Linked DNA regions of Homo sapiens. The protein of the gene in region 1 purifies or fractionates together with the protein of each later gene. This does not show direct contact. Each region holds a gene or a part of one and is shown in the gene's direction. Other genes may lie near its edges.

Region 1 (3,749 bases):
CAGGTTTGGGAGTGGGACAGAGGATAGAGGATGTTGGCTTGTTTTGTCAAGAGAGTGACATTCTTAAGTCTATGTTGGTGGTGGGGACAGATAGGAGGCAAGAAAATCAGTTAGGAAATTATTGAAACAATTCAGCCCCAGATAATCGAAGCTTATCAAGAGCAGCAGTGTGAGAATGCAGAGAAGTGGACAGTTGCCAGAAACATCTCAGAGGTAAACATGGCAGGCCTGGAAGATGAAAACCTTCAGTGCCTGGCAACTGAGGGGTTGGAAATACTCCAATCTCAGAAAAGAGAATACTGGGATTGGAGGTGGGGGCCAAGCTGGGAGAAAGATTTCAATGTCTTGCAGAATATAGAGAGGGGTTGATGAGAATAACAGCCGAAGAGCCCAGGGGAATTCCCAGGTTAAAAAAAAAAAGCCCCACAGAGATCAGAAGGGCAAATCCTCAATCTAGAGCCACAGAAGTGAAGATTTGGCTCTAGACTCTGAAGTCAGCTCTCCTACGGAAAAAAGATGGACCCAGGCCTTTTTAACTCAGGCAGCCCCCATGGAGGAGAGAGATGGTCCTCCTCAGTTTCTGCACGTTCCAAATGAAAGGGTCCTTCTGTGTAGAATGAGAGATCTGGAGAGTCCTGGGTAAAATCTCAGACATAATTCTTTCTTCTGAGAAACCAGCTTTTTGCTTACTGCCTTGAGGAAAACCTTGTCTATCTTTCTTTCTTCCTCTTGTTTTCCCCCTCAGTAGAATCCTGTGAAAAGAAGTCTTTGGGTATCACAATGTGTAAAACAGTTAAGAATGTAGCCACTGTCTTGTCACAGTGGGGTCTGCGGACCTGGCCTCTCTCTTCCCGTCCTCTACAACCAAAGATTTCCTCTGCGCAGTTGTAAAAATGTGGAATGTCCTAATGCACATAAATAGGTCTGAGATTTTAAAATAAATGAAACAAATATAATATGGAAAGTCTAAGTGGATTCCCAAGACCATTTCCAGGTCTCCCCTCTATGTTTCTCCTTGAGGGTGTCTTAAACACAACATCTCACACATATTTTTAAGCGGAAGACAGTGGGCTGGGTGCGAACATCTTGTTTGTGGCCTCCTGTAAGCATTCTTGGAAAAAGAAACGTACTTGTCTTTCTGATTATAAAATAAGCAAAAGCTCAACGTAAAGAATTTGGCAACTCCAGAGAGTATAAAATAAGAAAACTAATTGGTAACTCCGACGCCACTCCAGAAATAAAAATGAGCATTCGCGGAGAATCCTTCCAGTCTCCTTACCGAGGCCGGCTAGGGACCTGAATCTGAAGCTCCTCGCCCCGGGGCCAGCTCCTGCGGCAGCCGCTGGCTCGAGGCCCGGGAAGGGGCGCTGAGGGGAAGGCGCCCCCCAGGGAAGGTCTCTGAGGAGACGGCCGGAGGCGGGGCCGCCCCAGGGGACTCGGCGGCGACGCAAGGAGAAAGATCCGAGGAGCTGGAGGAGCCGTGAGGCGCGTGGAGTCTGCAAGGTCCCGGAGCCCTCCCGGCCCTCGCGGGAGAGCAGGGTCGAGGCGCGCCACGCGGGCGGCGCCAGGGAGGGGCGGGCAGGCGTGGCTCAGCCAGTGCCCCGGCCAGAGGCGCCCGGCGCCCCGCGCACACCTCAGAGGCCTGCGCCGCCGTCCCGCCGCCTCCACGCCAGGCTCCCGGCGCGGCGATGGGCGCGGGCCCCTGTCTCTGCCCCGGCCCGCCCCTTCCCGCCCCTTCCAGCCCCGCGAACGCGCGAGACGCCGGGGGACCGTGGGCGTCCTGCACATAGCAGCGGGCTTGGCGCTTCTCGGCGGTCCGACGCTGATGAGGTGAGCACAGCGACCTTAAGGATCCACAAAACTTCAAACACTTAATTATTAAGTGAAAGTGGAAAGGGGGAGGGGCTTTCTCTCCCTTTCCAGAATCTGGGCAGTTTGTTTGGAACCGGTAAAGAAACTCTCATAGGAACTTGAGGTGAGCAGGGGTCACGCATCAGGGATGCGAGTGGCAATTTCAGTGGAAGAGACGGGAGAGTACTGTAATTTGGTGTGAAGATGGGGCCGTGGGTTTTCTGCTGAATAAGCGACCGGCTGTGCTGAAAATGAGAGATCCCGAAACAGTTTCCCACCGCCTGTAGACTTTCCAGAGTCTCCTCACGCCGAATCTGCTTTGCAGGGCATGTTCACCCCCAGGGTGTAGAGTGGCGGGCACGATGGGCTCCCCCATGGAGATTGCAAAGTCCTGAAAAGGGACAATTGTATTGCACTGCGTCTGTTGAACTGCCTTGCTTCTGGGCATGAGGGAGTCACCTGGAAGCTGCAACATCCTTGTACCCTGGCAAGCAGCCCTTTCCAAGTTAGCTCTGTCAGAAACTAGAGGCCTCTAGGTAGAACTCAAGGTATCCATGTACTCGTGAAGAATACAAACCTTGAGGTTTTTAAAATCGAATTTTGTTAAGATTTCAGGATAGAAATCTGGGAAGAGAAGTCATGGCATGGCATAACTTACCCCTTTGTTAGTTTTCTAGGTACATGCATGCTTGAATTAGAGGTAAATGATGCCCTAGCCTATCATAAAATGTCTTTCCTGGTGTAGTTCTTTAAACCAGAATATGGAGGATAACATTACATTTTTGCATCCTAGATAAAAGGGAAAGATTTTCAGATGGGGCTTACACAGCGGGAGAAATTGTTGATATAGTTGTATTAGGCAGCAAGGCCTGCAAAGAAAAACTTCTTTTTCTCCACCAGTGGCTGAATTCTGCACAGAATGTCTCCTCGCAGTCTGGGTAGCAGCCCGGCTTGCAAAAACAGTGCTTCTTTCATTGCTGCAGGTGGGGCAAATGCGCTTGCGGATAAATGGCTGGGGAAGCGTTTGCTTACAGGTTAAGGCAATTTGAGTCTGGAGAATAAAGTGCTTTAGCAGGCTGTGCTTGAGTTAGGTGTCCCTTGTGAGGAATAGAGGTGGCTTTCTGGTCCCCATTTTGCCAGCCTAATTCCCCTTCAGGGACACTACTGTCTCTGGAATGTTCCCTCTGTTTCCCCTTCTCTTCCACCCCCAGCTTTTAGCTTCTCCCCATTCCCCAGTAAAGTCTAGAATTGAGCCTGGTCAGAGTCAAAGTTCTGATAGCCTAGGGATATAGAACTTCAAGCCTGGTGAAGGCAGAAATGAGACCTAGGAGAGACCCAAGATGGGTGAGATGAAACAACTTTCAGCCTAGAAGGCTCTCAAAAGAGTGGAAAAATAATGATTGAGGGAAACAGATTCTCTGGAAAGGAGAATAGGTGCTTAAGTGTTTGTTTTCAGCTGAGGGTTTTAATATTTCCATTTTTGTTGTTTAACCATAAGGGAATTTCCATTATAGGGTAGGAGGAGGATGAGGCCTTCTCTGAAAACTGCATCCTTCTCCTTGAATTTGCATTTTATTCCATTCTTATGTAGGTTTCAGAGATTAATTGGGGGAAGGGGGAGAGAGGAAAGAAGCCAGAGGCTCTGACATGCTGCAGAAACAGTGCAACGTGGACTGACTTGGGCTGCAAAGGTGGATTTGGGGGTTGAAAGAAATGTTCTACATTTAGTTGAAAAAAAAAAATCAGAGCCTTTATTTTGCAAAGGTCTTGAGAATCAGAACATTCATGTTTAGTTGCTGATGAATTTTGCCTGATAAAGGATGCAAATCACTATCTCACCTTTTTTTCTCCAGTACTTTATTATGAAAAATTTTAGACATACAGAGATGTTTTCTACC
Region 2 (3,649 bases), on another chromosome or scaffold:
TGTTTTTTTTTTTTTAATCTAGTTATCCAGTCTATGTCTTTTAATGAGATATTTAATTCACTTACATTCAAGGTTATTATTAATAGGTGAGGACTTATCTTGTCATTTTATTGTTTTCTGGCTGTTTTCTATATCCTTTGTTCCTTACTTCCTCTTACTGTTTATTTTTGTGGTTGGGTAGTGTTCTGAAGTGATAAGGCTTGATTTCTTTCTCTTTTTCCTTTGTATATTGGCTCTACCAGTGAGTTTTATAGTGTCACATGTTTTTATAATGGCTGTTATGATCTTTTCACTTCCAGATGTAATACTCCCTTGAGCACTTCTTGTAAGACTGGTCTAGTGGTGATGGATTACCTTCGTTTTTGCTTGTCTGTGAAAGATTTTATTTCTCTTTCATTTCTGGAGGATATCTTTGCTGCATGTAATATTCTTGGTTGGCAGATTTTTTTTTTCTTTTAGTACTTTGAACATAAAATCCTATTCTCTCTTGGTTGGTAAGATTTCTGCTGAGAAATCTGCTATTAGTCTAATGGGAACTCCCTCATAGGTGATTTGATGCTTTTCTCTTGCTGGTTTCTTTTTGTCATTGTTGTTTGTTTGTTTTTGAGATGGAGTCTTGCTCTGTTGCCCAGGCTGGAGTGCAGTAGCGTGGTCTCAGCTCACTGCAACCTCCGCCTCCCAGGTTCAAGTGATTCTCCTGCCTCTGCCTCCTGAGTAGCTGGGATTACAGGCACCTGCCACCATGCCCAGCTAATTTTTTTGTATTTTTAGTAGAGACAGAGTTTCACCATGTTGGCCAGGCTGGTCTTGAACTCCTGACATCGTGATCTGCCAGCCTCGGCCTCCCAAAGTACTGGGATAACAGGCATGAGCCACCACATCCAGTCCTTCTCTTGCTGTTTTTAGAATTCTTTGTCTTTGACTTTTGATAATTTGACTCTAATGTGCCTAAGAGGGGTCCTGTTTGAATGGAATCTATTTGGGATTCTTTTAGCTTCCTGGATCTGGAAGCTCCCAAGACTTGGGAAGTTTTCAGCTACTATTTCATTCAATGTTTTCTGTACATTTGCCCTTCTTTTCTCTTTCTGGAACACCTACAGTGTGAATATTTGTTCACTTAATAGTGTCCCATGAATTCTGTAGGCTTTCTTCATTCCATTTTACTTTTTCTTCCCCCCATCTTTCTGTGTTATTTCACAAGATCTGTCTTCAAGTTCAAAAATTCAGCCACGCATGGTGGCTCACACCTGTAATCCTGGCACTTTGGGAGGCCAAGGCGGGCAGATCACTTGAGATTAGGAGTTCGATACCAACCTGGCTAACATGGTGAAACCCCATCTCTACCAAAAAATACAAAAATTAGCTGGATGTGATGGCATGCCCCTGTAGTCCCAGCTACTCAGGAGGACTGAGGAGGGAGAATCACTTGAGCCCAGGAGGTGGAGGTTGCAGTGAGCTGAGATAATGCCACTGCACTCCAGCCTGGGTGACAGAGTAAGAACCTGTCTCCAAAAAAATAAATAAATAAAATTCTGCTTGGTCTAGTCTTTTGGTAAAGCTCTAGCTTGTACTTATTTACTTATTCATTGAATTCTTCCACTCCAGGATACCTGTTTTGTTCTTTTTTATGGTATTTATCTTCTTGTTGAATTTCTTGTTCAAGTCATGAATTGTTTTCCTGATTTCATCAAATTGTCTAGCTCTATTATCTTGTATCTCACTGTAAGATTACTATTTTGAATTCTTTTTCTGTCATTTTGTATATTTCTCTATCATTGGGGTCTATTACACAGGAATTATTGTATTCCTTTGGAGGTGTCATGTTTCCTTGCTTTTTCATGTTCGATGTATCCCTATGTTGATGTCTATGCATCTGGTGGAATAATTGCCTCTTCCAATTTTATGTGGTAGGTTTTGCAGGGAAAGAAATATTTGTATGAATGGATCTTGGGGTGTTGGTTCAGTGGGATGCATTGGCTTTGGTTCCAGGTGGGCATAGTAGTGTAGTTTTTGTGTAGTTTCTTTAACTGTAATCCATGCCAGTGACATTTGTGAGTGTCTCAGTGGCCTCAGCTGAGAGGCTTTGTGGTGGTGGTGGCATGACTTTGCCAGGGATGTGTTCACCGGGCTATTTGTCAGGTCAGCGATGCATGCGTTCACATGGTGGGTTGTCCAACTTGGGGTCTCACTTGCTGGGGTTGGGGTTGGTGCCCTTACTCTGGCTGAGGGCACAGTTGCTTGGTTGCTTGGCCAGTCTGGGAGTATGCCTGCCAGAGGTGGCCTGTTGGGCTGTTTCTCAGGTTTGGGACATGGGCACACTGCTGCTCAGCTCTCCTGTGGGGAATGCCTGCTGGGGACAGCCTACAGGGCTATTTCTCAGGCATGAGAGGTGGGCATAAGTCTGCTTGATGGCCCCGGGGGCATGTCTGCCAGGAGTGGCCTGAGGAGTTGCTTCTCAGACCCGGGATATGAACACAAGGCTGCTCGGCTGGCCTAGGGGAGTTGCCGCTAGGGGTGACCCATGGGCTGTTTTTCAGGCCTGAGATATGGACACATGGCTACTTGGCTGGCCTGGGGGTATGTCTGCCAGGGGCAGCCTGCAGGGTTGTTTCTCAGGCCCTGATTGAGGTGTGGGGCCTTTGGGCAGGCCGGGGGCATGTCTGTAGGGGGCTGCACTGCCCGACTGTTTCATAGATCCGGGATGCAGGAGCGTAGTCACTCTGCTAGCCTGTCAGTTGCTCAGGGCCTTCTGCTTGCAGGAGGGTATGCAGCAGTTTGGTTGGCTCAAGAGTGGGTTTGCCCTGGGTGGGACTGTTTCTGTGGCTGAAAGTGCAGAGGGTGGTTTCCCTTCATTGCAGGACCAGAGTCACAGCCATTCCCGAGCCCTGGGTTGTGGAGTTCAGCCACCTGTGTAGCTTTGGTGGCATGAAAATGGAGTCCCAGTGCTGGAAAGGTGCAGTGGCTACTGGCCCCAAGAGGAAGGCACACTCCAGAGGGAGCTGTGGTCTAAAGATGGCGCCATGCTGTAGTAACTTGGCTCATGGAGTGGGTGGGGAGTGGGGAATGCTCCTAATCTGGGGCAGTGCAACTGTACGAATTCCCAGCAGCTCTCCAAACTGGGCTCAGAACTTGCAAGGACTGGGGGATCCTCCTGTAATAAGGACTGTAGGTGTTTGCAGTGGCAGTGGGGGCAGGTGGGAATCTCCCGCTTACCTTTTCCTCACAGGGAGAAGGCCTTCATATGTCCAGGCCTCCTCAGTCCTGGTGGAAGAGATGGGGCCACAGAGGCTGGGGGCCTTCATGCTGCCCTCCTAGACTTTCAGTCACCACAGGGGCCTCTCCACTTCCCCACTGCAGTTCAGCACTTTCCCACACTGAAGTCAAATCTTAGCTGTTTATTCATTGCCTTAGTCCTTTCCTAAGAAAGGTGGGTGGGGGGGGGGGGGAGCGGGTGAGCACCAGCTGACTCTAATCAGTCATCTTGCTGATGTCCCACCCATCATTTATTCTATGATTTTTCATGAATCTGTTGAGAGCTCTAAAGATGAGTCTAATGTTCATCTCTTTGTTGAATTGGTCAGAAGGTCGTGTCCTGGACAAGATGATCTTCTCAGCTTGGACAGAATGCAGACAGGTGGGGAGAGGAGAG
Region 3 (3,649 bases), on another chromosome or scaffold:
CCAGCCTTAAACTTTGTTTGTTTGTTTGTTTGTTTTTTGAGACAGGGTCTTACTCTGTCACCCAGTCTGGAGTGGAGAGGTGTTATCACAGCTCACTGTAGCCTTGACCTCCTGGGTTCAAGTGATCCTCCAGCCTCAGCCTCCCGAGTAGCTGGGACTATAGTCATGCACTATGATGCCCAGCTAATTATTTTTTGTAGAGGTCGGGTCTCGCTGTGTCGCCCAGGCTGGTCTTGAACTCCTGACCTCAAGTGAGCCTCCCACCTCAGTCTCCCAGGCTTCTTTTACTTAACACATATTTTTGAGATTCATTCATGATGAGAACAGTGACAGTTTATTATCACTGCTTTATACAGTTATTGTATGAATGTGTTTGGCCATTTATTATTAACCATTCTACTCTTTTTTTTTTTTTTTTTTGAGACAATGCCTGGCTCTGTTGCCCAGGCTGGAGTGCAGTGGTACGATTTCGGCTCACTGCAAACTGCTTCCCAGGCTCAAGCCATCCTCCTACCTCAGCTCCCCTGGTAGCTGGGACCACAGGCGCATGCCACCACACCTGGCTAATTATTTTTGTATTTTTTGTAGAGACGGGGTTTTGCCATGTTGCCCAGGCTGGTCTTGAACTCCTGAGCTCAACCAGTCTGCCCGTCTGGGCCTCCCAAAGTGCTGAGATTACCAGTGTGAGTGACCACATCTGGCCACCATTCTACTTTTTGTTTTTTGAGACTGAGTCTTGCTCTATCACCCAGGCTGGAGTGCAGTGGCATGATCTTGGCTCACTGCAACCTCTGCCTCCCAGGTTCAAGTGATTCTTCTGCCTCAGCCTCCTGAGTAACTGGGATTATAGGCACTGGCCACCATGCCTGGCTAATTTTTGTGTTTTTAGTAGAGACGGGGGATTCACCATGTTGGCCGGGCTGGTCTCGAACTCCTGACCTCAAGTGATCCACCTACCTTGGCCTCCCAAAGTGGTGGGATTATAGGCGTGAGCCCCTGCGGGTGGCCCATCTTACTTTTTTTTTTTTTTTTGAAATGGAGTCTCGCTCTGTCACCGGCTGGAGTGCAGTGGCGCAATCTCAGCTCACTGCAACCTCCGTCTCCCGGGTTCAGGTGATTCTTCTGCCTCAGCCTCCCAAGTAGCTGGGACTACAGGCATGTGCCACCATGCCCGGCTAATTTTTGTATTTTTAGTAGAGATGGGGTTTCTTCATGTTGGCCAGGATGGTCTCGATGTCTTGACCTCATGATCCACCTGCCTTGGCCTCCCAAAGTGCTGGGATTACAAGCATGAGCCACCGTGCCTGGCCTGAGCCATTCTACTTTTAATGGACATTAGATTGTTTCACCTTTAGGGTCATTACAAATAGTACTGCTGTGAAAATACCTGTACGTGTCTTTTTGTGAACATAATATGTGCATTTCTGGTGAGTTCATCTACGTTTTTTATTTTTTATGGTATTGACATGTTTGGAGAGTCTGGACTACTTGTTTTGTGAAATGTTCCACCATCTGGATTTGTCTGATTTGTTCCCTTACATTTAGATCCGGGTTAAACATTCTTTTGTGAGAATATTATGTAAGTGACGTTGTGTCTATCTGTGTATCATATCTGGAGGAACGAGTCCCATTGTCGAAGATGAAGTTTGATTGTTTGGTTAAGGTGGTGTCTATCACATTTCTCCATCATAAAGTTAACTTGCTAAATTAGTTGCTTTCTTTGCAACTTTGCTAGTATTGTTTTAAATTTTTGAGACAGGGTCTCACTCTGTCACCCTGGCTGGAGTGCAGTGGCACAGTCATGGCTCGCTGCAGTCGTGACCTCCTGGGCTCAAGTGATCCTCCTGCCTTGGCCTCCCAAAGTGCTAGGATTACAGGTGTGAACATGGCCAAGTTTTTCTTTTTTTCTTTCTTGAGATGGAGTCTTGCTCTGTCTCCAGGGTGGAGTGCAGTGGTATGATCTCGGCTTACTGCAATCTCCACTTCCCAGGTTCAAGCGATTCTCCCCCCTCAGCCTCCGGAGTAGCTGGGACTGCAGGTGTGCACCACCATGCCTGGCTAACTTTTTATATTTCAGTAGAGACGGGGTTTCACTATGTTGGCCAGGATGGTCTCAATCTCCTGACCTCATGATCCACCCGCCTCGGCCCCCCAAAGTGCTGGGATTATAGGCGTGAGCCACTGCGCCTGGCCTGGCCAAGTTTTTTTTTAGTATTTTAGTTTAATATTGTATTGACTGACAAAGTCTTATGGCCTAAACTTTACTGTGGAATTCTAATAGGTGTGTTGTGATCAGTTTGAGTTTTGACAAATTGTATATACGTGTGTAACCACTACCACCCTAAACCTGTGTAACCACCACTGCCACAAGCAAGATCAACAGTTTCAGTATCCCTAAACGTTCCCTTACGCCCCTTCCCATTGAATCCTTGCCTGTGGTCCTAGGAAATCTGAACTGTTTTCTATTACTATAGAGTATATTTGTCCCTCCTAGAATTTCATATGAATGAATTATGTATTCTTTTATGTCTTTTTTGGCTCAGAATAATGTTTGTGAAATTTATTTGTGTTATGGTATGTATCAGTAATTATCAGTAATGAATTACCTTTTTTTTTTTTTTTTTGAGATGGTATTTCGCTCTTGTTGCCCAGGTTGAAGTGAAGTGGCTCAGTCTTGGCTCACTGCAACCCCTGCCTCCTGGGTTCAAGAGATTCCCCTGCCCCAGCCTTCCAGTAGCTGGGATTACAGGCGCCCACCACCATGGCCGGCTAATTGGCTAATTTTTTTGAATTTTTAGTAGAGACAAGGTTTCACCATGTTGGCCAGAGTGGTCTTGAACCCCTGACCTCAAATGATTTGCCCACCTCGGCCTCCCAAAGTGCTGGGATTACATGTGTGAGTCACTGCGTCCAGCCAATTTTTTTTTGTTTAGTAGAGATGGGGTTTCACTGTGTTGGTCAGGCTGGTCTCCAACTCCTGACCTCATGTGATCCAACTGCCTTGGCCTCCCAATGTGTTGGGATTACAGGCGTGAGCCACTGCGCCTGACCATGAATTACTTTTTACCGCTGAGTAGTATTCCATCGTATGGATGGCTATATCTCAATTTGTTGATCTGTTCACCAGTTGATGGACATTTGTAGTAGTTTTTGATTCCTGCGTAACAGTATTACCACAAATTTAGCCGCTTGGCACAGCACACATTGATTATCTCATGGTTTCTGTGGGTCAGGAGTCAGGAAACCACTGGGCTGAGTCTCACCAGGCTACTATTGAGAAATCTGTCAGGACTGTGGTCGCTGACTAGGGAGGGGTCTGCTTCCTAGCTTGTGTGGTTGTTGGTGGCATTCAGTTCCTTATGGACCATGAGACTGGAGACTTTAGTGTGTTACTGTCAGCCAGCGGCCGCCCTCAGTTTCTTGCCAAATGAGTCTTCCCACTTGCCTCCTCAAAGCCAGCAGAAGAGAGAGTCTCTTAGTAAAGTGGACATTACCACGACGTATCTCACCCACATTAATGCAGTCACGTACATGCTGTCACCTTTGCCATATTGTGTTGGCCAGAAGCAAGTAACAGATCCTGGCCACATTTGAGTAGAAGGAACAGCACAGGGGCATGGATACCAGGAGGTGGGGATCATGGGGTCAC

What was found.
Region 2: the proteins of GPR156 (region 1) and STX8 purify together in Homo sapiens (co-immunoprecipitation; 3 studies listed by BioGRID and IntAct, with this or other methods). This does not show direct contact.
Region 3: the proteins of GPR156 (region 1) and PEX14 purify together in Homo sapiens (co-immunoprecipitation; 3 studies listed by BioGRID and IntAct, with this or other methods). This does not show direct contact.

What each region holds. Positions count from the first base shown.
Region 1 is NC_000003.12:120,283,110-120,286,858, reverse strand, and holds the start of GPR156 (probable G-protein coupled receptor 156), read left to right. Parts: upstream 1-1,636; 5' UTR 1,637-1,830; exon of another isoform or gene 1,831-1,975; intron 1,976-3,749. UniProt on the Homo sapiens protein: Orphan G-protein coupled receptor involved in the regulation of hair cell orientation in mechanosensory organs of the inner ear.
Region 2 is NC_000017.11:9,506,205-9,509,853, reverse strand, and holds part of STX8 (syntaxin-8), read left to right. Parts: intron 1-3,649. UniProt on the Homo sapiens protein: Vesicle trafficking protein that functions in the early secretory pathway, possibly by mediating retrograde transport from cis-Golgi membranes to the ER.
Region 3 is NC_000001.11:10,481,422-10,485,070, forward strand, and holds part of PEX14 (peroxisomal membrane protein PEX14), read left to right. Parts: intron 1-3,071; exon of another isoform or gene 3,072-3,616; coding exon of another isoform or gene 3,617-3,649. UniProt on the Homo sapiens protein: Component of the PEX13-PEX14 docking complex, a translocon channel that specifically mediates the import of peroxisomal cargo proteins bound to PEX5 receptor.